4 linked regions of the Homo sapiens genome follow. The protein of the gene in region 1 purifies or fractionates together with the protein of each later gene. This does not show direct contact. Each region holds a gene or a part of one and is shown on either strand. Other genes may lie near its edges. The genes, in order: MSRB3, C1QL1, TIGAR and SNX21.

Region 1 (5,981 bases):
CTTTTATTAGGGCCCTATATGAATATCTGGAAATTTTTATATTAAGATAAGTAGCTCTTTGCTACTTATCTAGAATTTTGTCACAGTGCTTAAACTGCTTGTATGGCAAGGTTGCAGCATACAATGTAATTTAGATTTTGAATCAACACACTGCTTTTTGTTTTTAAAAGTGCTTGTTCTAATATTTTAACTAAGATGTTAATCCATTAAGTCAGAAATCCTTGCTATTTTGCTCAACTCAAAAGAATATCCAAAGACTATCCCAACAGTAAGGTTCATCAGTTTTTCTAATACATATGCCATTTAATAATTAAAAATAGATTTTAAGGCCACGTGTGGTGGCTCATGCCTGTAATGCAACACTTTGGGAGGCCAGTGTGGGAGGATTGCTTGAACCCAGGAGTTCGAGACCGGCCTGGTCAACATAGGGATACCCTGTCTCTACAAAAATTAAAAAAAAATTAGCTGGGCATAGTGGCTCACTCCTGTGGTCTCAGCTACTTGGGAAGCCAAAGTGGGAGGATTGCTTGGGCCAGGGAGATCGAGGCTGTGGTAAGCCGTGATCACACCACTGCATTTTTGGTTCTGTCATAATCTGGTCACAATCCCTCTAATTTATCTGCACCTGTATAATTAATTTATCATAGTTATGGATTTGGTTGATGAATTTGATTCCCATGTTTAGCTTCTCGGTAAAATTATTAAGTTGGACAGTTTCCATGTCTCTTCTAACTCCAAGATCCTATAATGTTGTTTTTGTTTATGTAACTCTTCAGAGCCACCTACTACATGTGGTTCAAACTTCTGATTGTCAGCCTGTGACTTGCTATACATGTCAAACTGGCCTACCTTAGCCAGATGTGATGGGTGTGGTCCAGTGTTGGAGAGTCCGGATCTGTCTCAGGATTGTGTTAATACCTGGAACATGCACAAAGATACATACATACCTGGACAGATTCCGTGTTAAGCTTCTATCACTTTTTCTTCCTCATCTAATAGCAGAAAGTGCTGATTATGTCATAGGGTAAATGCCTAACTGGTTTTTGGGGATAGTTAAGCCCAGGCCTTAAGACAGTTTGATATTCAGTTTTGTTATTTAGGTCTGGGTTAGGGATACCGCCAGAGAGCATCCAAACATTTCTGTGGTTGGGAAGGCTAGTTATCTGTGAGCATTCCAGATGAAATAGCCTATAATGGGTTATCACCTTTTGATCTTACCTCAGAGAAGATTGAATTGGATCTACCTATCTGATTTAGCAGAATTAAACTGGATTTGGATGGAAGGGTAATCAGCTATTTAATTTGCCAGTTGTTAGTTAGCATTTCTTCTTGCTGTATCTCAAGGATTTACTTTGAATATTCTGTATTTTCTCTTTCCTGCCCATGATGGGTTTTCCTTTTAAAATGCTCAGCACAGGCTGGGTGTGGTGGCTCACGCCTGTAATCCCAGCACTTTAGGAGGCCGAGGCAGGCAGATCACCTGAGGTCAGGAGTTTGAGACCAGCCTGGCCAACACGGTGAAACCCTGTCTCTATGAAAAATACAAAAATTAGCCGGGCATGGTGGTGGGCACCTGTAATCCCAACTACTCAGGAGGCTGAGGCAGGAGAATAACTTGAACCAGGGAAGCGGATGTTGCAGTGAGCCAAGATCATGCCACTGCACTCCAGCCTGGGCGACAAGAGCAAAACTCTGTCTCAAAAAAAAAAAAAAATTGCTCAGCACAGTCCCTCATCCATGTTCATATATTTGTCTGTATAGTATGCTGAAGTCATGTTTATGGCTTTAAGGGAAGTACAAAAAAGGAAAGTATAGAAAAGATCAAACAAACGCATCGAACAATTGACTTTATGAAAGATTTTGGTTATTGCCTCATTTAAGCTTCTATTGCAGTAACAGAAATGAACTAGTTTTAGCAAAAAGGAAGAAAGGAATTTGTTGGAAAACCATTGGAAGTCAAATGCAGGCAGACCTCATTTAGGGCCTGAGATAAGGGACTGGAAAAATCTAGAACATTCCCTGTCTCTAGTTTGCTTCACTGTTTTTTCTTTGCTGGTGTTTTTTTTTTTTTTTTTCTCTTCATGGTTAGATGTGGCTGCTCAGCAGCTCCTGAGTATTTATGTGTCCCTTCATAAGGAGGGACTATATTATTGAGCCTTGATCCTAAATTCCTGGGAGGTAGAACCTGATAGACACAGTTTAGGTCACATGGTTGACCTAGATTTTCCCTAAAGTCTCTTCTAATTCTAGAGTATCTGATGTACGTAGTACAGCCATGTAGATGGTTTGATTTTGCATTTTTCCATTTTATGTTATGAGGTTATAGTCCTTAAAATGAATTGTGAACATTTTCTCTGATAACAACTAATTCACTCTGCAAATAATCATCTGCATATTTTCAGGAATTCACTGAATAAAATGCTGACCTCCAGTGGCTCTTTAGGATAAGTTCATTAAAACTATAAGTGGTAGAGATATTTGAAACAGTAATAGCTTAGGGACTGAGAATTTATCAGTTGTTTTCCTATTTCTCACACATATCTAACATTTTCTGTCTCTACCTTTCCTTTAGGCTGTTCCTACTGCCTGGACCTCTTCTCTATCACAACAGGTTGAAGTCTTTAAGGCCTCTGTCAGATGGTAGTTTGTGACATTTTCTTCATACCACAGAATTTGTAATTTCCTTGTGCTTCTAAGGTGTTTTGGACCATGGTTGGAGTACAAGTTTTACTATATTGTCTTGTGTTGTAGTTAAGTCCATATATATTCAACTTCACTAAACTATAAATTCCATATGTCAGTGAATCACCTAGAATTTTTTTTTTTTTTTGAGATAGGATCTCACTCTGTCACCCAGACTGGAGTGCAGTGGCACACTCATGGCTCACTGCAGCCTCGAACTCCCTAGAATCAGGTGATTCTCCCACTCCAGCCTTCTGAGTAGCTGGGCCTACAGGCACCTGCCACCATGCCCAGCTAATTGTAGTATTTTTTTGTAGAGATGGGGTTTCACCATGTTGGCCAGGCTGGTCTTAAACTCCTGACCTCAAGTGATCTGCCAGCCTTGGCTTCCCAAAGTGCTAGGATTACAGGCATGAGCCACTGCACTCAGCTAGAAGAATTCTGATAGGCTCTGAGCATCCATTGTTCCAGGTATAACAATTCTGACTTTTTCAGATACTCTGATGCTTTTATGGTATCCTGCTTGCTGCTGTCTTCTTTTGAAATTGGAGTTCAATCACTCTGCTTTTCTTTCTTAATACTTGTCTGTTTCCTAGATTTTACATGCTTTTCCATGAACACTAATTTCCTGTATGAAGAGGGAATATACAAATGATAGGATGCTTTCCTGTAACTGAGATGGCAGGGGGAAGGAGAGGACAGCAACTCATACAGAAGGAAATCAGCTTTTGTTGAGCACCCAGAATTTACCAGATCAGATAGAGAGGACAGGTGTAGAAGAAAATGAGCATGTATAAAGTGGAATAGTGGGACAATAAAGTACAAATATGGAAAATTAAGTGGAAGGCTTTTAATGCTGTTAGGGAACTTGGATTGGGTTAGTAAGTTATGAGACTGACATTTTTGATCCTTGAAATGTCATAATCAGAGGTGAATTATAGGTTATATAATCCAATAGTTTAGATAATTAATTAAATTGGGAAATAAGTCATAGGACCAATAAAGAAGTGTTTTGAGAGTTTCTCTTAAGGAATGAAGACCTAACGAGAATAGCGGCACCGCAGTAGAAGTGTTGCTAAAGTACATTGGACAGAAATAAGCAATTGGATATTGGGAAAGAAAGGGATGAATAAAAGGTGACATGAGATGTTAAGCCTGGGTGATGGAGAGAATGTGATCTCAGCAGGTTTGTGGGTGGAGGTAAAAATAAGTTTTGTTCTAGATCTCTTGCTTTTGAGGTGCTGGTAGGATATTCCTGTGGAGATGTGTAGTAGAATCCGAAGTGTGAAACTGGAACTTGGAGGGAGAGATCAAGGCTGGAAATAAAACATGTATGAGTAAGGAGAGTTAAAAATAAAGAGAAAAAGAGAGCATTTGTTAGCTGGAGTAAAAGGAAGGGTACAGGAAAAGCATCATAGAGAAGAGAGAATTTGATCTGACTTTAAAAGATGCCGAGTCGGTATATGGCATTCTGTTCACGAGCTTTCCTTGTTGAGGGGACATCACATTTACTAACTTGAGAGATAATACATGGGAAGTGTTGGACAAAGGATACTGCATCCAGAATGACCTTTCTAAACTACAAAATCATTTCCCCTCTTTCCTGCTTAACCCTCCCTCAGTGGCTTCTTATCTTTCTTCAGATAAAGGACTGACTCCTAAATGTCTTCATCATCACCAATTTGAACACACATTGTGTCTCACACTCCTCCTCGTTCCTCACTCTTCTTCCCCAAGACTGGACAGAATGTGAAGAAGATATGATTTCCACCAGATGGAGTACTCTTTATACTTTTTTGGGGTCCTTTATGGTTACTTTTTGTGGCCATGGTCAGGTTCTTATCCATAAAATAATTATTGATAACTTCCTAATGTAAAATGAAAAATAATGATAAATCACATACTTCCCTCATTTTTACAGAATTCCTTGCTTGCCTTATCTCTTCAAGTGTTGACTGCAAGGTTCCTGTACACTTACTTGAGTTGGCCACTCCGGTCACTATACCCTGATCTCTGACACTTGGCCGTGGTAGCCTGGAGCAGCATTGTTACTGGGCATTGCTGTGATTGGGTTACCCAGCTGTGCTGATGTGGAAACCTCAGGGCTATTTATTGATACTTGGTTTCCTAAAGGAAAGTTGAGGGAATGTATTTTATGAGAGGGCTTTATTTACACGATTAAAGAGGTTTATAAAATGTGGAGATGAATATAGGTGAAACAGAGAAAGAATGCTGGTATAGGAGGTGTTTTCGGCTGGGTTTGGTGGCTCATACCCGTAATCCCAGCACTTTGGGAGGCTGAGGCGGGTGGATCACTTGAGTCCAGCCTGGGCGGCGTAGTGAGACCCATCTCTACAAAAACTACAAAAATTAGCTGGGCATTGTGTTGCATGCTTGTAGTCCTGGCTACTCAGGAGGCTGAGGTGAGAGGATTGCTTGAGCCCAGGAAGCAGAGGTTGCAGTGAGCCAAGATCGTGCCACTGCACTCCAGACTGGGCAATAGAGTGAGACCCTATCTCAGAAAACAAACAAAAATCCCCAAAAAACCAGGAAGTGTTTTCTTAGGGTCTAGTTCCCAGGCGAATGGTATATCCTGATTCTAGGTTTATAAAAATAGTATATTATTCATAACATTTGTCTAAAGTGACACATTTACATACAGTATATAGTATTGAGTAATTTCCAACTCTTTAAAAATAATGGAGACCCTTTCATGTAGTAGTAACTATGTTTTTAGTATCTGTTGACTGAGAAAATACGTAACAGCAAAAGCTACTATAAAACTTTGAAATAAGTTCTTGTAAATGTAAAAAAAATTCTCATATATTTGGAAAGTATACATGTGGAAATTATGACTTATAGAGTCTATGGACACTTGATTTCTTGCTTTATGGATACTCTCAGGAAGTTCTGGTCTCAACTTTGAGTATCTCATTGTCCTCTTACTTTAGAATGTGGGGTATGGGGGAAAACTTCTATTTGAAAATTTGAGCCATAGCGGAAATTTTGGAATGACAGGGAAACACCTTCTCAGAATCCTCTTACAATAAAATTTATATATGTTATGCCAGACAATGTACTTTATACTAAGACTGGACTTTTAAATAGTCTCATGGATTAGAAGTCAGATACAATAAATAAATACTTTTTAAAAATTATATTTTTAGGTATATGAGCATTGTTGTTGGGACTACAGTGCTATTTTAAAGTGAAATTTAGTTGATTTGCATGTGAGTATACACCTACAGGTCTCTGTTATAGCCGTGACATGTCTTCTGTTACTATAAATTACATAACAA
Region 2 (5,537 bases), on another chromosome or scaffold:
GGAGAATCACTTGAACCTGGGAAGTGGAAGTTGCAGTGAGCCAAGATCGCACCACTGCACTCCATCCTGGGTGACAGAGCAAGACTCTGTCTCAAAAAAGAAAAAAGACCTAAGGAGATCAGCCTCTCCCCTGGTGGTGGCAGATGGCCCCCTGGCTATCCTTTCTGGCCCCTAATACCTTTCACAACACAGAGCACAGTGCCTGGCACAGTGGGAATGCAGTTAATGTATGTATGAAAATGCAAGTGTCCCCCATGGGCCAGGCTGGCTCCCCTATGGGAGCCACATCTGTACACCCAAGACCCCAGCATTGATCTGAGGGCAGGAACGTGTTTCCTGGATGCCCTCTCACCCAGTTCCCTTGGTCAGACCATTGCCTCAGTTTCCCCTCCTGGCAGCCCTTGAGGAGCTGATTATACAGCGCTCCCTCATAACAAGGCCCAAACCTGCTTTCCTGCTTCCTTGGCAACCTCATTTCCCCACACTTCCCCTTGGACCCCAGGAGGAGCTGCAGGCCTCAACTGTCTCCAGTCAGGCAGAGAATTGGGACCCCTGGGTTCCATTCTTGGATCCCCCACCATCTAAGGATGGAAGGGCATAAATTCTCTCTGCCTCCATGGATAATTAGGATAATTACGGCAACAATCATGGTGATGAATAAATAATAAACATAAGCATAACAGTTCTGATGCAGTCACATCACCAGGAGATTCCTGATGACAGATGACTCTGTTCCAATGGATTTGGCTATTAAGGAGCACACTGTTTTAATGAGTTAAGGCTAAATTAATCTGGGCAATAAAAATAATTGTTATTAGTAGTAATTTATTAGCAAAGATAATGAAATGCATGTGTAATAATAAATATTACCAGGATTAGGGCTCAGGGAACAATACAGAAGTTGGCTGTTTGCTTTCAGCTCTTCCCTAATAACTCAAAGCCCCATCAAGATCTAATGTTTTTTTTTCTTTATCATCAAAAGACTTTTACAGAGGTGGCAGTGGTGAGGCAAAGTCTTCTCATCCATTTTCTAGACAGAGAAACTGAGCTCCTTGGCAGACAGCATCTCCCCCTTCATTTATTCCCTCCCACCTTTAACTAGACCAGTTTTCCCAGCTAAGCACACAAAGAGTTTCTTCTCAGGTTGGGAAGAAGAGGTTGAGGGAAAAGAAGGGGCTGGAGAAGGGCTTTAAAGGGAGGCCCTCATGCAAATATGTCGGGTCCTCTTCATTGCAGCATCGCGGCTGAGTCAGCAGCTCTGGCACAGCTGACCTGCAGTGCTGCCTCCAGCCCAGGAGAGAGGATGGGCCCCTCCCCTAATTTGGCTTGGTTCTACCCAGACTTCAGCCCTGGGAGTTGGGATGGTAAGCTGCCTTCAGTGAAGGGACAGGATAGAGAGGGGCCGTGGAGAAACCTGGCTGAGAGAACTCCACTCAGTGCAGCCTCCCCACACCACAAGCCACAGTCCTGGAGAGGGCGCTTCTCTTCCATGTCTCTACCCAGGATACCCTGGAGAGGCCCCGATCCTCAAACTCAGGACTTATGTTTCCATACCTGTTAGCTGAATGTCTGTAGATCATTCGTTCACCACCACACAATCTCTCTCTCTCTCTCTCTCTCTCTTTTTTTTTTTTTTTTTTTGAGACGGAGTCTCGCTCTGTCGCCCAGGCCGGACTGCGGACTGCAGTGGCGCAATCTCGGCTCACTGCAAGCTCCGCTTCCCGGGTTCACGCCATTCTCCTGCCTCAGCCTCCCCAGTAGCTGGGACTACAGGCGCCCGCCACCGCGCCCGGCTAATTTTTTGTATTTTTAGTAGAGACGGGGTTTCACCTTGTTAGCCAGGATGGTCTCGATCTCCTGACCTCATGATCCACCCGCCTCGGCCTCCCAAAGTGCTGGGATTACAGGCGTGAGCCACCGCGCCTGGCCTTTTTTTTTTTTTGAGACTGAGTCTCACTATGTCGCCCAGGCTGGAGCGCAGTGGCATGATCTCGGCTCACTGCAGCCTCCATTTCCCAGGTTCAAGTGATTCTCCTGCCTCAGCCTCCCCAGGAGCTGGGATTACAGGCGTGCCACTATGCCTAGCTAATTTTTGTATTTTTAGTAGAGATGGGGGTCTCACCATATTGGCCAGGCTGTTCTCGAACTCCTGACCTCAAATGATCCACCTGCCTGGGCCTCCCAAAGTGCTGGGATCACAGGCATGAGCCACCGTATGCAGCCACCACACAATCTCTTATGATTATAGTCAGAGCCCCCAAAAGTGACGGCAGGCTCCAAGCCCAAATGCTGGTGCTCCCTTGACCCATTATCCTGCCTGTCCCTCCCCATCCCCCATCAAGGCAGGGACCAGCAAGGATGTCACATCAGACTGAGAATCCCAGAGGGAAGTAAGGCCTGGATTCCCTTCTTCCCACCCAGTTCCTTTCTACCACCCTGAGGTGAGACAGGAGGAGCTACAATCCTCTTTGGGTGGGTAGTGACAGGTACATAGCTACAGCTCCATGGAGGCTGGCACCCAGGCCCCTTCTAAACTCTGGGAGGGGAAAGCATTACCAGGCCTTCTGTCTCACTGCTGCAGCAGGAGAGACTCTGGAATGCACTTCAGACCAAAGACCTGGCCCTGGTTCCAGGGTGGTTGCTGACTGGCAGCCTGGCATTGGTCCAGCTGCCTGACCTGTGGGGCCAAGGTGTGCCCTTGTGTCCATCCACTGACATAAGATCCAGCGGGTGTGGCTGAAACGATGGCATCATTATGAAAGCAGAGAGGAAGGAATGATGAGAGTAGGGAAGGCCCTCCATTCCCTGGAGGTCCAGAGAATTCCTCTTTGCAAGGACAGGCTTCCAGGCTTCCTGGAGGTATTGAGGTTCTCAGCCAGCTGGAGGGAAAGCCCTATAAGAGTTAAGGAGGAAGACTCTGCCTTGACTCCCAATTCAGGCCCAGATCAGACCTGCCCTAGAAATCCAGGGATCCTCTCTGCCCCTTTCCTGAAACAAGTCCTGTATGATTGGAAGGGGGCGGGGGAGGGGGAGCGTGGCAGGGATGAGGCGAGGCTGGAGGCCAGGTTTCTGGGTCTGCTGATCCTCCCCCACGGGACTGCCTCACCTCCCTCCCTTCTCATCCTCTCTCTCCTCTCGCCCTCCCTCCCGTGTCCCCCACCCGCAGGTGCGGGCCAGTGCTATTGCCCAGGACGCGGACCAGAACTACGACTACGCCAGCAACAGCGTGATCCTGCACCTGGACGCCGGCGACGAGGTCTTCATCAAGCTGGATGGAGGCAAAGCACACGGCGGCAACAGCAACAAATACAGCACGTTCTCTGGCTTCATCATCTACTCCGACTGAGCTCCCCACGTCTCCCTCCACCCACGTCCCTCACCCGCCGGGGTCCCCTCCGGGCGGGGCAGACGATGACTCGCCCCTCGCCCACCCGCTCGCTGCCCGGCCCTCCCCGGCTATGACGCCCCCGGCCCGTGCTCAACACCGCCTGGGCCACAGCTAGGCCCTCCCACCGGCTCGCTGCAGAGCCGGGCCCAGCGCGCCCTGTCCCCGTGCCAGGGAACCGGGGTTGACCGCCCCCGCCCAGCCCGCGCTATATATTTGTACAATAGGACTGTTTACTGCCCACCTCCGCCTGCCAGCCCACCCCAGCCTGGGGAGAGGTCGCGGCGGCGGGTTTGCTTCCTGCGCTCTGAGATGAGCTGCCCTCCGCTCCCTCCGGGGTGGCGCGCCCGGGGGAGGGGGGAGTTGGGGGCTGGATAGCTTCCCAGCACCCTCAGAGCCCCCGCCCGGCTGTGCCCCGTCTGACCAAAGTTATAATAAAAACATTTTCACCCCGCAGGGGTTTCAGTCTGTGCCCTGGGGAGGGCTGCGGGAGGCGACGGTGGACCGTGCCCTCCTCCAGATTAGGAAGGGGTCTGGTGGAAGTTTCTAGGGGAAACCAGGTGCCAGAGCCAGAGCTACTCCAAGAAGAAGTTGCCAAAGGGCCTAAAGCCCACCACAACCCAAGTGGGCCTGGGCAGCTGGGATGGGAAGCAGCCCAGTTACTTCATCATCTTCCATGGTGGACACATTCCTTTTTTTTTTTTTTTTTTTTTTAGACGGAGTCTCGCTCTGTTGCCAGGCTGGAGTGCAATGGCAAGATCTCGGCTCCCTGCAACCTCCGCCTCCCGGGTTCAAGCGATTCTCCTGCCTCAGCCTCCCGAGTAGCTGGGAATACAGGCGCACACCACCACGCCCAGCTAATTTTTGTATTTTTAGTAGAGATGGGGTTTCACCATGTTGGCCAGGCTGGTCTCAATCTCCTGACCTCATGATCCGCCTGCCTCAGCCTCCCAAAGTGCTGGGATTACAGGCGGGAGCCTCGCTGAAAGTGGCATCAGCATTCCACAGGCACAGGTGATCTTTAAACAGGGAGACCTAGGTCCGGCTCTGGGCCACCGTGTATGATCCTGGGCAAGTCACTTCTTTCAACGCAATTTAGGATTAGTGACAGCCATAGAAAGGAACATCCTTTGGACTAAAGGCTGGTTAACCTAGGTCTACGCACTTGACCTCTGTGCCTCGGTTTCCTCATCAATAAACGTAGGAGACCTACCTCACTTGATTGAGGATTCGTGAGGTTTATTGTTATGTGCTCAGTAAACATAGCTTTTATTATTTATCTATAACTTGCAAAATGCTTCCAAGTATGTCATCTCAAGTTTTCCAAACAGCCCTGGAAGGTTGGACCTAGATTTTATTCTTGCAGGGAGGTTAAATATCTTGCTTACATAGTTTCTAAGTTCTGTGATTGCACTTGAAAATCCAAGACATGGCCACGCACGGTGGCTCACACTTGTAATCCCAGCACTTTGGGAGGCCGAGGTGGGAGGATCACCCAAGGTCAGGAGTTTGAGACCAGCCTAGCCAACATGGTGAAACCCTGTCTCTACTAAAAATACAAAAATTAGTTAGGCGTGGTGGCAGGCACCTGTAATCCCAGCTACTTGGGAGGCTGAGGCAGGAGAATAACTGGAATCCTGGAGGTGGAGGCTGCAGTGAGCTGAGATCACGCCATTGCACTCCAGCCTAGGCAACAGAGCAAGACTCCATCTCAAAAAAAGGAAAAAAGAAAGAAAGAAAATCCAAGACATACCAAGTCCCCTTACTCCACCACTGCCATCCTCACTTCCTATAACTGGAGGCCATGTCACACAGGGCATTTCTAGATAACAATAGCTAATATTGAGAGAGCACCCATTATATGTCAGGTACTACGTAAGAACTTTATAAATATTATCTCATGGATATGTGTGCAGGGGTGGGCAGTAGATCTACAGGAAATTATCTCATGCCCTTTAAAATTATGCTGTTATTTTATCCATTTTAGGTGAGGAAACTGAGGCTCAGAGAGGTTAAGCAACTTGCCAAGATCACAGAGCTAAAAACAGGCAAATGCCAGTATTTGAACCAAAGATAATGCTCTTACCTGGTACACCATATTTCAGAGTTGGGATCTCCAAAGCAGATCTGAGGATGGCACCGGGGCAGCCTG
Region 3 (5,981 bases), about 61 Mb from region 1:
CAAATAAACCATACTGACAGAACACAAAAGCATTTATAATGGAAGTCACTCAATGGGAATTGAAAATACTTGGTGCTGAATGCTTACCACATTACCACGTGTCAAAACTACGGGCATGCAAACAAAAACAGTACTTAGGAATATATAAGCCTTGAGGCCGCGTGCGGCGGCTCAGGCCTGTAATTCCAGCACTTTGGGATGCTAAGGCAGGCATATCAACTGAGGTCAGGAGTTCAAGACCAGCCTGGCCAACATGGCAAAACACCACCTCTACCAAAAATACAAAAATTAGCTGGGCATGGGGGCACGTGCCTGTAATCCCAGCTACTCAGGAGGCTGAGACATGAGAAATCGCTTGAACCTGGGAGGCGGAGGTTGCAGTGAGCCGAGTTCGCACCACTGCACTCCAGGTTGGGCGGCACAGTGAGACCCTGACTCAAAAAAAAAAAAAAAAAAAAAAGAAATACATGAGCCTTGAATGCTTATACACAAAAGGCTGTAACTTAAAGAACTAAAGCATCCAACTGACAAGGTCAGGAAAAGAACACAAAAACTTTCTTGACGTTCCATTGTCAATGTCTTAGGAAAAAGAGAAATGAGCAATACCAAAGGCCAGGTGGTAAGAGGCTTCAGTCCAGAGGATAACCTGGGTGGGGCATATTTCGTCTGAAAACAAAGGTTCCTTTGAGAATCAGACCAGTTATTGTCCATAAAAGGGAGTCAGGCACACGGAATATGAAAATCAGTTTTTGTAAACCCCGGAAGTCCCTAACCAAAAAAATAAAACTAAATGCTTTTATAATCACAGCACAGAAATAGCATGTCTAGCCAAAAGTTCAAGATATTCTTAAAAAGCCAGACTAGCTGGATCACAGGGCAAATAAAAGATCTGAGTCCAAATTAACAGAAAAAGGGAGAAAGAATCTCTTCAGAATAAAGTAACGACCACATGTGAAAATAGTTCTTTTTTTAAACCTTTATTACTACTAAAATTAAAATAACCATCTTAGCAGAAAAAAATACCATTAACACCAGTCAGTAAACTTCATGTTTCCAAATATAAAATAATTTCAAATCCAGACATTTATATTTTAAGACACCCAGACCCAATATAATTAATCAGCTGACAGAGCCACTTTGAAGCCATACATAAAGAATAACTTGGAGACCTGTACTTCACACCCAGTTCACTTGAGAGATTTATTCCTCCTGGTTACTAACAGCCCTGATCATATTTCTGTGGTTATGATGCTTTGATTCTGTAATCCCAATTCACAATGGAGTGCTGCCCCCAGTCTACCCCACCCCACCAAATCTGCTTAACTCACACATCTTATTAACACAAGGGTGAGAGCTAAAATAACAATCGGATTATACCAACCTTGGATTATTTTCTCCTTGTTAAATCTTGTTTCTCCACTAAAATAGAAAGAGAAGGACAACCTTATTAGCCAAATTATACTGTTTTTGAGAGGAGGAAAAAAATGAGCAATCAAGTGTGGTGATACTCTAAAAATATCATGTGAAACTTGTAACACACTTCATAATCCAACCTGTAAAAACAATTTATTCTAAACTAATATTTGCAATTGTCTTCTTTAATGAAGAGCTAAGAATTTCAAACTACTCCAAACTAAAACGTGTAGATCAGGAACCAATCTTAAGTGAATTGCAGGTGGAAAATCCTACTAAAAAATATAATGCAAATAACATTTCAGCCAAATAATTTTGTTAAAAGAAATATATTGATCAAAACTACTCTTACTGGCAGCAGGAACAAAAACGTGAGAGTCAGTCTATTCATTGCTGGACTGAATGAGCAAGTGAAAGAGAATCTGAATGGAATGGGAGAGACGTGCACAAACCTTCAGAACCCCCTGCCTTCTCTTAGTTCCTAGGTCTTCAGCAGTTATTTTTTGTAGTACTGACAGCTATCTCGCAGACCAACTAACTGCACACTGAACTGAGGTTTGAGTACTACACTTTTAAAAACTAAAATACCAAAACAAATCAAAGCAATCTGAACCAACCGGAAGGGTAAAAGAACTGGAAACTTTGTCAGAAAATAACTGGGGTTACTGAGGCTGGAGGGGGAAAAGGGCGGGAAGTGCATGGGCAAGACTGGACAGACAGCAGGATAGGTTAACAATAATGCAACTTTCAAATACATGAAAAGTAGAATCAAAGAGAATTCAGCTGAAATTTCTTTGAGCACTAATTAAATGTTTGCTGACCCAACCTACCACTAGAATTGCTGGGCCATAAGGTATGCAAATACCAGCTTTATTAGGTAATGCCAGTGTCATAGCAGGTTACACCACCCTGTAGTGTGGTGTACCACCCTCAACAAGATTCAGTGATGGAAGGTTTCTTCAATTTGTACCAATCTGGTACCTGAACAATTCATCTCACTTTAATTTTAATTTGCATTTCCTTGATTTCGATGGAAAATGATCGCTCCATTGTTTTTAAGTGAAGCACTAGTTTATAATAATTAAAATGTCACATAGGACTGATTTACTCAGATCTAGAAAAAAAAATCTACCAGACCTGGAAGTCAGAATCACAAACTCAGGCCTCATCCTGGAATCTTGCCGCTTGTTTACAAAAACAGCTGTATGCCAACCTCTGCCAAGATACAGATTGCTGGATTTGGCCAATATGAATGTTCTTTAAGACCCAACACAAGACTGGTTCTTTTAGGTAGTCTCCCTCCCCAGTACCATTCCCCATCTACCTACTCTATTTAATACCCACACTCTATACTCCCATGGTCCCCTGGCACTACCAACATAAGTTTTCATCTGTGTGCTAATTGACTTTTTAGCTCTGTGTCTATCCTGGCTCCAGTTCCTTAAAGGCACAAGCAGGGATTGCATACCCTCAACATGCCCAGGGCCTGGAGAAAATGCTGGGAAATGACAGAACTTCAGTGAATGTGCTTTTACCTAGGGAGGGTCATCTGGAAATACCTATCAAAATGACAAATCTGTTTACCCTTTTATCCAATAACCCAATTACTGGGAATAACTGAATTCACTCATATTTAAAAGATTATTTGTGGCCAGACGTGGTGGCTCATGCCCGTAATTCCAGCACATTGGGAGTCCGAGGTGGGTAGATCACGATGTCAGGAGTTCAAGCCCAGCATGGCCAAGATGATGAAACCCCATCTCTACTAAAAATACAAAATTTAGCCATGCGTGGTGGCGGGCGTCTGTAATCCCAGCTACTCGGGAGACTGAGGCACAAGAATTGTTTAAACCCGGGAGGCAGAGGTTGCAGTGAGCTGCAATCACACCACTGCACTCCAGTATGGGTGAGAGAGCAAGACCCTGTCTCACAAAAAAAAAAAAAAAAAAAAAAAAAAGATCATTAGCTACAGTATTATTTCTAATAGCAACAGATTATAAACAACCCAAATGTCCATAACTCATTCCTTAACTATGGCCAGAATAACCATTATTTATATTAACAAATAAACAGTGACATATCTACCTAATGGAATCCTATGTAAATGTGTCCTTTAAAGAGAGAGATTATATGTAAAGATATGGAATGCTCACCAAGATATATGATTAAGTAGAAAAAGCAGGGTATAGAGTAATATAAAAAGAAAGCTACCCTTTTAGAAAGGAGGGAAATAAACATCTGGATCTGCACAAAGAAACAATGGAAGGATAAACATGAAACTAATAAATGTGGCCACCTATTGGTTGGGGGAAGAATAGGAAGACTACGGAGAATTGTTTTGATTTCTAAATATGTAGATGTATTAGCTTAAAAAATAAACGTATGATAAAGAAATAAAATTACACAGAACTGGCCAGGCACGGTGGCTCACGCCTGTAATCCCAGCACTTTGGGAGGCCGAGGTGGGCAGATCACGAGGTCAGGAGTTCGGGACCAGCCTGGCCAACAAGGTGAAACTCCGTCTCTGATAAAAATACAAAAATCAGCCAGGCATGGTGGTGAGTGCCTGTAGTCCCAGCTACTCGGGAGGCTGAGGCAGAAGAATCGCTTGAACCTGGGAGGTGGAGGTTGCAGTGAGCCAAGATCATGCCACTGCACTTCAGCCTGGGCAACAGAGCAAGACTCTGTCTCCAAAAAAAAAAAAAAATACATGGAACTATTTATACCTTGGTAAAAAACCAACAGCACTGATTTGCCATTATCATTGTTGTTAATATTAATAAAAGATTACCTAGGCCACATGCAGTGGCTCATGCCTGTAATCCCAGCACTTTGGGAGGCCAAGGAGGGCAGATCACCTGAGGTCAGGAGTCCGAGACCATCCTGGCCAACATGGTAGAATCCTGTGTCTACTAAAAATACAAAAATTAGCCAGGCGTGGTGGCAGGCACCTGTAATCCCAGCTATTCGGGAGGCTGAGGCAGGAGAATGACTTGAACCCAGGAGGTGGAGGTTGCAGTGAGCCAAGATCATGCCATTGCACTCCAGCCTGGGCGACAAAAGCAAGACCTCATCTCAAAAAAAAAGATTTCCTACACTCCAAAATTCATTCAGAATCTTATAAAATGGGCATGAAAGAGGATATTAGCCTCTACCATTCAGATGGATAAAGCAGAAGCATTCAGGGCAAACATGGGGAACCTGTCATTTTTAATCTAGAAAATAGTTACCATGTATTGGATTCACTTCCTGTCTCAGCCTCAAAATCTTGCTGAGACCAAGAATAAAATATCTGTTATTTCAATATAAGTAACATCCTCGGCTGGGCGCGGTGGCTCATGCCTGTAATCCCAGCACTTTGGGAGGCCGAAGCAGGCGGATCATGAGGTCAGGAGTTTGAGACCAGCCTGGCCAATATGGTGAAACCCCGTCTCTACCAAAAATACAAAAATTAGCTGGGCGTGGTGGTGTGTGCCTGTAGTCCCAGCGACTCGGGAGGCTGAGGCAGAAGAATCGCTTGAACCCAGGAGGCGGAGGCTGCAGTGAGCCGAGATTGCGCCCTCAAAAACAAAACAAAACAAGTAACATCCTCGCTAGACAGTGGCTTGTAGCCCTTAATTTAAACCTGGCCTAAAACTGCCTCCATGCCTAGGGAGCTGTCACCTAACTTAATATGCACACAAACTACAACATAATTTGAGAGTATATTCCTGTAATAAAAACCAAGTCTCAGCCAACCATGCATGGCAGCTGAGCTTTCAGCCAATTATGGGCTGCAAACTGCTCAGACATGTCCTAATAAGGCAAAGCAGAGCTGTATCCAATCAGGCTATCTCTATATGTCACATCCTTTCTTTCTTTTTTTTTTTTTTTTTCTGAGATGGGGTCTCACTCTGCAGCCCAGGCTGGAGTGCAGTGGTGTGATCTCGGCTCACTGCAATCTCCAACTCCAGGATTCAAGCGATTCTCCTGCTTCAGCCTCTCAAATAGCTGGGATTACAGGCAAGCGCCACCACGCTCAGCTAATTTTTGTATGTTTAGTAGAGACATGGTTTCACCATGTTGGCCAGGCTGGTCTCTAACTCCTGACCTAAGGTGATCCTCCTGCCTCGGCCTCCCAAAGTGCTGGGATTATAGGTGCGAGCTACTGCGCCTGGCCATGTCACTTCCTTTCTCTGTCTATAAATACTGCCTGCCTATGTCACTGGGTGAGCACTCTGAAGCTTTACTGGTTCAGGTGCTGCCTGATTTATGATTCATTTCTTTGCTCAAATAAACTAAGTCTAATTTGTCTAAAGTTTTTCTTTTTATAGGTTGCTAACACAATTTCCAGCCAAAGCCAAAGAAGCACCCTCATTTTGAAATGAGGGGTGAGAAGAAATTTAATAATTTGCCAACCAAGAAATCATGCAAGAGCCACCAAAAAAACTCAGAATTTACAAATCACAGAAATTTGGCAGAGATGATTACTTTTTGTATACTTGCTGAAGAGTAACTCAGCATTTTTATTTAATCAAAGTAGATAATGAAAGATTCAAATTAAAATAAAGGTTTACACTGTCAAAATG
Region 4 (5,970 bases), on another chromosome or scaffold:
TTTTTGAGGCCGGGCGTGGTGGCTCACGCCTGTAATCCCAGCACTTTGGGAAGCCGAGGCGGGCGGATCACGAGGTCACGAGACCATCCTGGATAACACGGTGAAACCCCGTCTCTACTAAAAATACAAAAAAATAGCCGGGCATGGTGGCAGGCGCCTGTAGTCCCAGTTACTTGGGAGGCTGAGGCAGGAGAATGGCGTGAACCCAGGAGGCAGAGTTTGCAGTGAGCCGAGATCGAGCCACTGCAGTCCGGCCTGGGCAACAGAGCGAGACTCCGTCTCAAAAAAAAAAAAAAAAAAAAAAAAAAATTTTGAGACAGGGTCTCGTTCTGTCACTCAGGCTGGAGTGCAGTGGTGCAGTCATAACTCACTACAACCTCCAACTGGGCTCAAGCTATCCTCCCACCTCAGCCTCCCAAGTAGCTAGGACTACAGCTGTGCACCACCACGTGTGGCCAATGATGAAGTCTGAAGTGGCAAAGGTCTCAGAACTCTGGGTTCATACACTGGAAGGGGACACCAAGGAATAGTTCAGAGGCTGAGAGGAATGGGGGTGACTGTGGGTACCTGGATGGGAAGGGATGACAAGATAGAGCAGGATGGCCAAGTATGCCCCGGCCTGTGTCTGGAGAAGCAAGGCACCTCCTGTGTACAATGGGGACCCTAATTCCCCACTCAACTTGTGGGGGTGAAGAGCACAGGCTTTGGAATCAGATCAACCTGAGTTTAAATCCCAGCTGGGCTGTTTTCCAGCTGTGTGACTTACGGCAAGTCTTTGAGCCCTTTTCCCCCTCTTTGAGCCTGCTTCCTCAGCTGTCAGAGATAAGGACCTTCCTTGCAGTGCTGTTGTGATGATTAAATGAAATCACAGATGTAAAGAGTGCTTGGTACAACAGGAGGCACAGGGTAAATGCTTGGGTAATGGAACTACTGTCATTATCACCCATCTGGCTGCATGTTACAAGGTCAATGAGATAATGGATACAAAATGTAAACTAGATGAACATAAAGGCTTATTATATAGACCAGTGTGTCCTGAAGAAAACTGGTGTCCTAAAGTGTGTCCTGCAGAAAACTAGTTCCCTGGAATGTTAATAGCTGTTTCTAAATAAAGGTTTTGCAGGCAATATGTTTTGAGAATGCAGAGTTAAATGAGAATACAATAAGTTTCTTTATTGTTAAAGTATTTAATCCCTAATAGTGATATACACTGTGAATCTTCAAGAGGACAGAGTAAGCAAACCTAACTGACCAGGAGTGGCTAGAGTATTGTCAGTTCCACAGAACAAATGTGAGAGAAAGATCTGGATTTGGTGTTAGGGTGCCTTTAACATCTAACACTGGTTAACTCTCCTTTTAAACCTGTTGGCTTGGCATTATAGGTTAATCCATATTCAGGTTCTCAGACCTGGGAGGCGGGGAACTTCGTGATCATCTTGTTCAGTGTTTTCCAAACCTCAGTCATTCCAATACCTCCCTGATTCTTGTCCTATCTAAAAATGCCACTTGTGTCCTTTTCTTCTTAACATTTTTCTTTAAATGAACCTATTTTTTTTTCTTTATCTTTTTTTTTTTCTTTTTTGAGACAGAGTCTTGCTCTGTTGCCCAGGCTGGAGTGCAGTGGTGCAATCTCAGCTCACTGCAACCTCCACCTCCTAGGTTCAAGCAATCCTCCCGCCTCAGCCTCCTGAGTAGCTAGGATTACAGGTGCCCACCACCATGCCTGGCTAACTTTTGCATTTTCAGTAGAGATGGGGTTTCACTGTTGGCCAGGCTGGTCTTGAACTCCTGACCTCAAGTGATCTGCCGCCTCAGCCTCCCAAAGTGTTGGGATTACAGGTGTGAGCCACTACGCCCAGCCGAACCTATTTTTTTTCTTAAATAAGTTTATCGAGACGGAGTCTTGCTCTGTCGCCTAGGCTGGAGTGCAGTGGCGTGATCATAGCTCACTGCAGCCTTGAACTCGTGGGCTCACATGATTCTCTGCCTCAGCCTCCTGAGTAGCTGGGACCACAAGTGCCCAACTAATTCTTTTTCTTTTTCTTTTTCTTTTTTTTAGAGACAGGGTCTTGCCATGTTGCCCAGGCTGGTCTCGAACTCCTGGCCTTAAGCTGTTCTCCTGCCTCAGCCTCCCAAAGTACTGGGATTACAGGTATGAGCCACTGTGCCCATCCTTTAAGTAATTTTAAAAGACAACTTCATAGCACTACCGTACGTGGAAAGTCTCACTTGCCACCGAGAGAAGCTAGCCATAAAAATAAAAGGTGAGGCACGGTGGCTCACACCTGTAATCCCCGCACTTTGGGAGGCTGAGGTGGGCAGATCACCTGAGGTCAGGAGTTCAAGACCAGCCTGGCCAACACGGTGAAACCCCGACACTACTAAAAATACAAAAATTAGCCGGATGTGGTGGTAGGCGCCTGTAATCCCAGCTACTCGGGAGATTGAGGCAGGAGAATTGCTTGAACCCAGGAGGCAGAGGTTGCAGTGAGCGGAGATTGTGCCACTGCATGCCAGCCTGGGCGACAGGGCGAGACTAAATAAATAAATAAAGTAAATAAGTAAGTAGTGAAAATGAAACGTCATTAAATCTTGCCTAGATGTTGTTGCCTGAAGGAGGCCCTGACCTGAGATCCACTTTCTGACTCTTTTCTAAAAATGGAGATGAGAAGTGTTAGAGAAGTACTTTTTTTTTTTTTTTTTGAGAGAGAGTTTCACTCTTGGTGCCCAGGCTCGAGTGCCATGAGCAATCTCGGCTCACCACAACCTCCACCTCCCAGGTTCAAGCAATTCTCCTGCCTCAGCCTCCCAAGTAGCTGGGATTACAGGCATGTGCCACCACGCCTGGCTAATTTTGCATTTTTAGTAGAGACAGGGTTTCTCCATGTTGGTCAGCCTGGTCTCGAACTCTCAACCTCAGGTGATCCACCTGCCTCAGCCTCCCAAAGTGCTGAGATTACAGGTGTGTGTGTGAGCCACTGCAACCTGCCCAAGAAGTCCTTTTTTTAAAACCAAACTGAGAGCTGGCCAGGCGCGGTGGCTCACACCTATAATCCCAGCACTCTGGGAGGCAAAGGCGGGCGGATCACAAGGTCAGGAGATCGAGACCATCCTGGCTAACACAGTGAAACCCCGTCTCTACTAAAAAATACAAAAAATTAGCCGGGCGTAGTGGCAGGCGCCTGTAGTCCCAGCTACTCGGGAGGCTGAGGCAGGAGAATGGAGTGAACCCAGGAGGCGGAGCTTGCAGTGAGCCGAGATCGTGCCACTGTACTCCAGCACTCCAGCCTGGGCAACAGAGCGAGACTCCGTCTCAAAAAAAATAAAAAAATAAAAAAACCCCAACAAAACCAAACTGAGAGCTTCTCAATTTGTAGTCAGAAAGATTAAAAAACAATTAGGCTGGGTGTGGTGCTCATGCCTGTAATCTTAGCACTTTGGGAAGCCTAGCTAGGAAGATTGTTCAAGGCCAGGAGTTCAAGGCCAGCCCTAGCAACATAGTGAGACCCCCCCTCATCTCCATACAAAAAAAAAAAAAAAAATTTTTTTAAATAGCTGAGTGTGGTGGTGCATGCCTATAGTCCTAGCTACTTGGGAGGCTGAGGCAGGAGGAATGCTTCAGCCCAGGAGGTTGAAGCTGCAGTAAGCTATGATTGTACCAGTGTACTCCAACCTGGCCAACAGTGAGACCCTGTCTCAAAAAATAATAATTAAAAGGGGACCAACCTCCTGATACAGTGATATTTACTCTAGTGCACACCACCTAAAAACCTCAGGTACCAATACTTGTACATGTCTCATTTTTGGACAAACACTGACTTGACCGAGCACTTCCTTCACTAGAAACAGAAGTGGACCCAGAGGGGGACTCCCTTGCCTGGGTCACACAGAGAAGGAGTAGCTGACCTGGGGTTAGAACTTGAGTCCTAGGCCAGTATACTTTTCACAGTTATGGCAGTTGTGGCTATCTACAGACCTGTCCTCTGGGTCTAGTTTGGAAAAGCCTGACCAGGGATGTGGAGGCCAGGTGTCCAAAGTGGAACAAGCTCCAAGCTGGTCCTAAAGGAGCCCCAAGAGATTGGCTGGGGTTTCAGCTTATGTCTGGTTTTCCAGAGGGGGCTGTCAGAAGAACTAATGCTCTATGGGAAGGGAGTACAAAAAAAGGGGCAGCAGCCCCGGGCACTGAAGCTCATCTCTGTCTTTCTCTCTTCTTGCTGCCTTGGGCCTGGGTCATTTCAGACAAACCTCAGGTAAGATGGGACTGGGCTTCCCCGCCACTGCGCAGCAGCTCCCGCCCTCCTGGGTGCTGTCCCAGGGGTGAAAGGAAGAGGTGGGGAGGTACAGCTGGGAGTGTGGGGGATGGGGAAGGATGGGGAGGGAACGGGCCCGTGGACAACTTGCATTTGCCCTGACACCCACCCTCCCTGCAGCTCTACACCCTCGCCGTGATCGGCCCAGGACCGCCAGATTGCCAGCCAGCCCAGATCTCTCGCCGTTACTCGGACTTTGAGCGGCTGCACCGAAACCTGCAGCGGCAATTCCGGGGCCCAATGGCTGCCATCTCCTTCCCCCGTAAGCGGCTGCGCCGGAATTTTACTGCAGAGACCATTGCCCGCCGTAGCCGGGCCTTTGAGCAGTTTTTGGGTCACCTGCAGGCAGTGCCTGAGCTGCGCCATGCCCCGGACCTGCAGGACTTCTTCGTGCTGCCGGAGCTGCGGCGGGCACAGAGCCTCACCTGTACTGGCCTCTATCGTGAGGCTCTGGCACTCTGGGCCAATGCCTGGCAGCTGCAAGCCCAGCTGGGCACCCCCTCTGGCCCAGACCGCCCCCTGCTGACCCTGGCTGGGCTGGCCGTGTGCCACCAGGAGCTGGAAGACCCTGGAGAGGCCCGGGCATGCTGTGAGAAGGCCCTGCAGCTGCTTGGGGACAAGAGCCTCCACCCTTTGCTGGCACCCTTTCTGGAGGCCCATGTCCGGCTCTCCTGGCGCCTGGGCCTGGACAAACGTCAATCAGAGGCTCGGCTCCAAGCCCTGCAGGAGGCAGGCCTTACCCCCACACCACCCCCCAGTCTCAAAGAATTGCTCATCAAGGAGGTGCTGGACTAACCCTTGCCTAGATTTAAGGCCACTGTGAGGAGAGGGGTTGCCCCAGAAGGCAGGGGAAGGACCTGATGAGAACAGAATAGCTGGGAGGCTGCAGAGGGTGCTGGGAGCCCCTAGAAGTTCCAAAAGAGAATGTGAAGCAGATCAAGGAAACTTCTGTTGAGCTAGGCTCAGGGTGAGCTTTGGCTGGGGTTGCCCTTGTGTAGTACAGGGAAGTCTGACACAGCCTCTCCAGCCTATAAACAGCCGGGGGGCTGTGGCACAGGTTGGGGCAATGTTCCCTTGTTGGTGGGCCCCCAAGCTGGCAAGGCCTCTTGGCTGAAGGCCAGGGACTCTGCCCCTGGAGTCCTGGAGTTAAGGGATGAAGGCAAGGCTGCAGGTCTGGCCCAGGGGAATTAAAAGCCAGCCACTCCAGTGGTATCAGTCTCTTTATTGGATGTGAGGGCCAAAAGGGACTGTAACTCCTGTCTCAGGAATGGGGATAGATGGGAGGTTCTTGAAGCCCCAGGCGAAGCTGGTACCTCTGGCTACAGCTTGCTCTCTGAGACCTGGGGCTTCACTCGGATCACGCCCTCCTGGGCACAGGTCACAGCTAGGACTCCATCCTGACGCCACAGCCGCCCATGGACCAGCCCCCGAGAGCCACCTGTGGGTGAGGTGAAGGGTGATGATGGCCTGCTTCAGAACAGCCAAATACACTTTTTTTTTTTTTCCTGAAACAGAGTCTCACTAAGTTGCCAGGCTGGTCTCAAGCGCCTGGGTTCAAGGGATCCTCCCGCCTCAGCCTCCTGAGCAGCTGGGATTACAGGCGCACATCACCATGCCCAACCTCCAAGTGGACTTCTTGCAAAGGGTCTGGCCCAGGGCA

Evidence for each region.
Region 2: the proteins of MSRB3 (region 1) and C1QL1 purify together in Homo sapiens (affinity purification with mass spectrometry; 2 studies listed by BioGRID and IntAct, with this or other methods). This does not show direct contact.
Region 3: the proteins of MSRB3 (region 1) and TIGAR fractionate together in Homo sapiens (co-fractionation; one large-scale study listed by BioGRID). This does not show direct contact.
Region 4: the proteins of MSRB3 (region 1) and SNX21 purify together in Homo sapiens (affinity purification with mass spectrometry; one large-scale study listed by BioGRID and IntAct). This does not show direct contact.

What each region holds. Positions count from the first base shown.
Region 1 is NC_000012.12:65,280,619-65,286,599, forward strand, and holds part of MSRB3 (methionine-R-sulfoxide reductase B3 isoform 2 precursor), read left to right. Parts: intron 1-5,981. UniProt on the Homo sapiens protein: Catalyzes the reduction of free and protein-bound methionine sulfoxide to methionine. Isoform 2 is essential for hearing.
Region 2 is NC_000017.11:44,957,997-44,963,533, reverse strand, and holds the end of C1QL1 (C1q-related factor precursor), read left to right. Parts: intron 1-3,166; coding exon 3,167-3,346; 3' UTR 3,347-3,841; downstream 3,842-5,537. UniProt on the Homo sapiens protein: May regulate the number of excitatory synapses that are formed on hippocampus neurons. Has no effect on inhibitory synapses.
Region 3 is NC_000012.12:4,326,718-4,332,698, reverse strand, and holds part of TIGAR (fructose-2,6-bisphosphatase TIGAR), read right to left. Parts: intron 1,420-5,981; coding exon 1,382-1,419; intron 1-1,381.
Region 4 is NC_000020.11:45,836,209-45,842,178, forward strand, and holds part of SNX21 (sorting nexin-21), read left to right. Parts: exon of another isoform or gene 1-1,127; intron 1,128-2,059; coding exon of another isoform or gene 2,060-2,183; exon of another isoform or gene 2,184-2,324; intron 2,325-3,271; exon of another isoform or gene 3,272-4,097; coding exon of another isoform or gene 4,098-4,250; intron 4,251-4,430; coding exon 4,431-5,105; 3' UTR 5,106-5,629; coding exon of another isoform or gene 5,630-5,748; 3' UTR 5,749-5,824; coding exon of another isoform or gene 5,825-5,835; 3' UTR 5,836-5,970. Other genes in the region: ACOT8 (acyl-coenzyme A thioesterase 8), read right to left, coding at 5,630-5,748. UniProt on the Homo sapiens protein: Binds to membranes enriched in phosphatidylinositol 3-phosphate (PtdIns(P3)) and phosphatidylinositol 4,5-bisphosphate. May be involved in several stages of intracellular trafficking.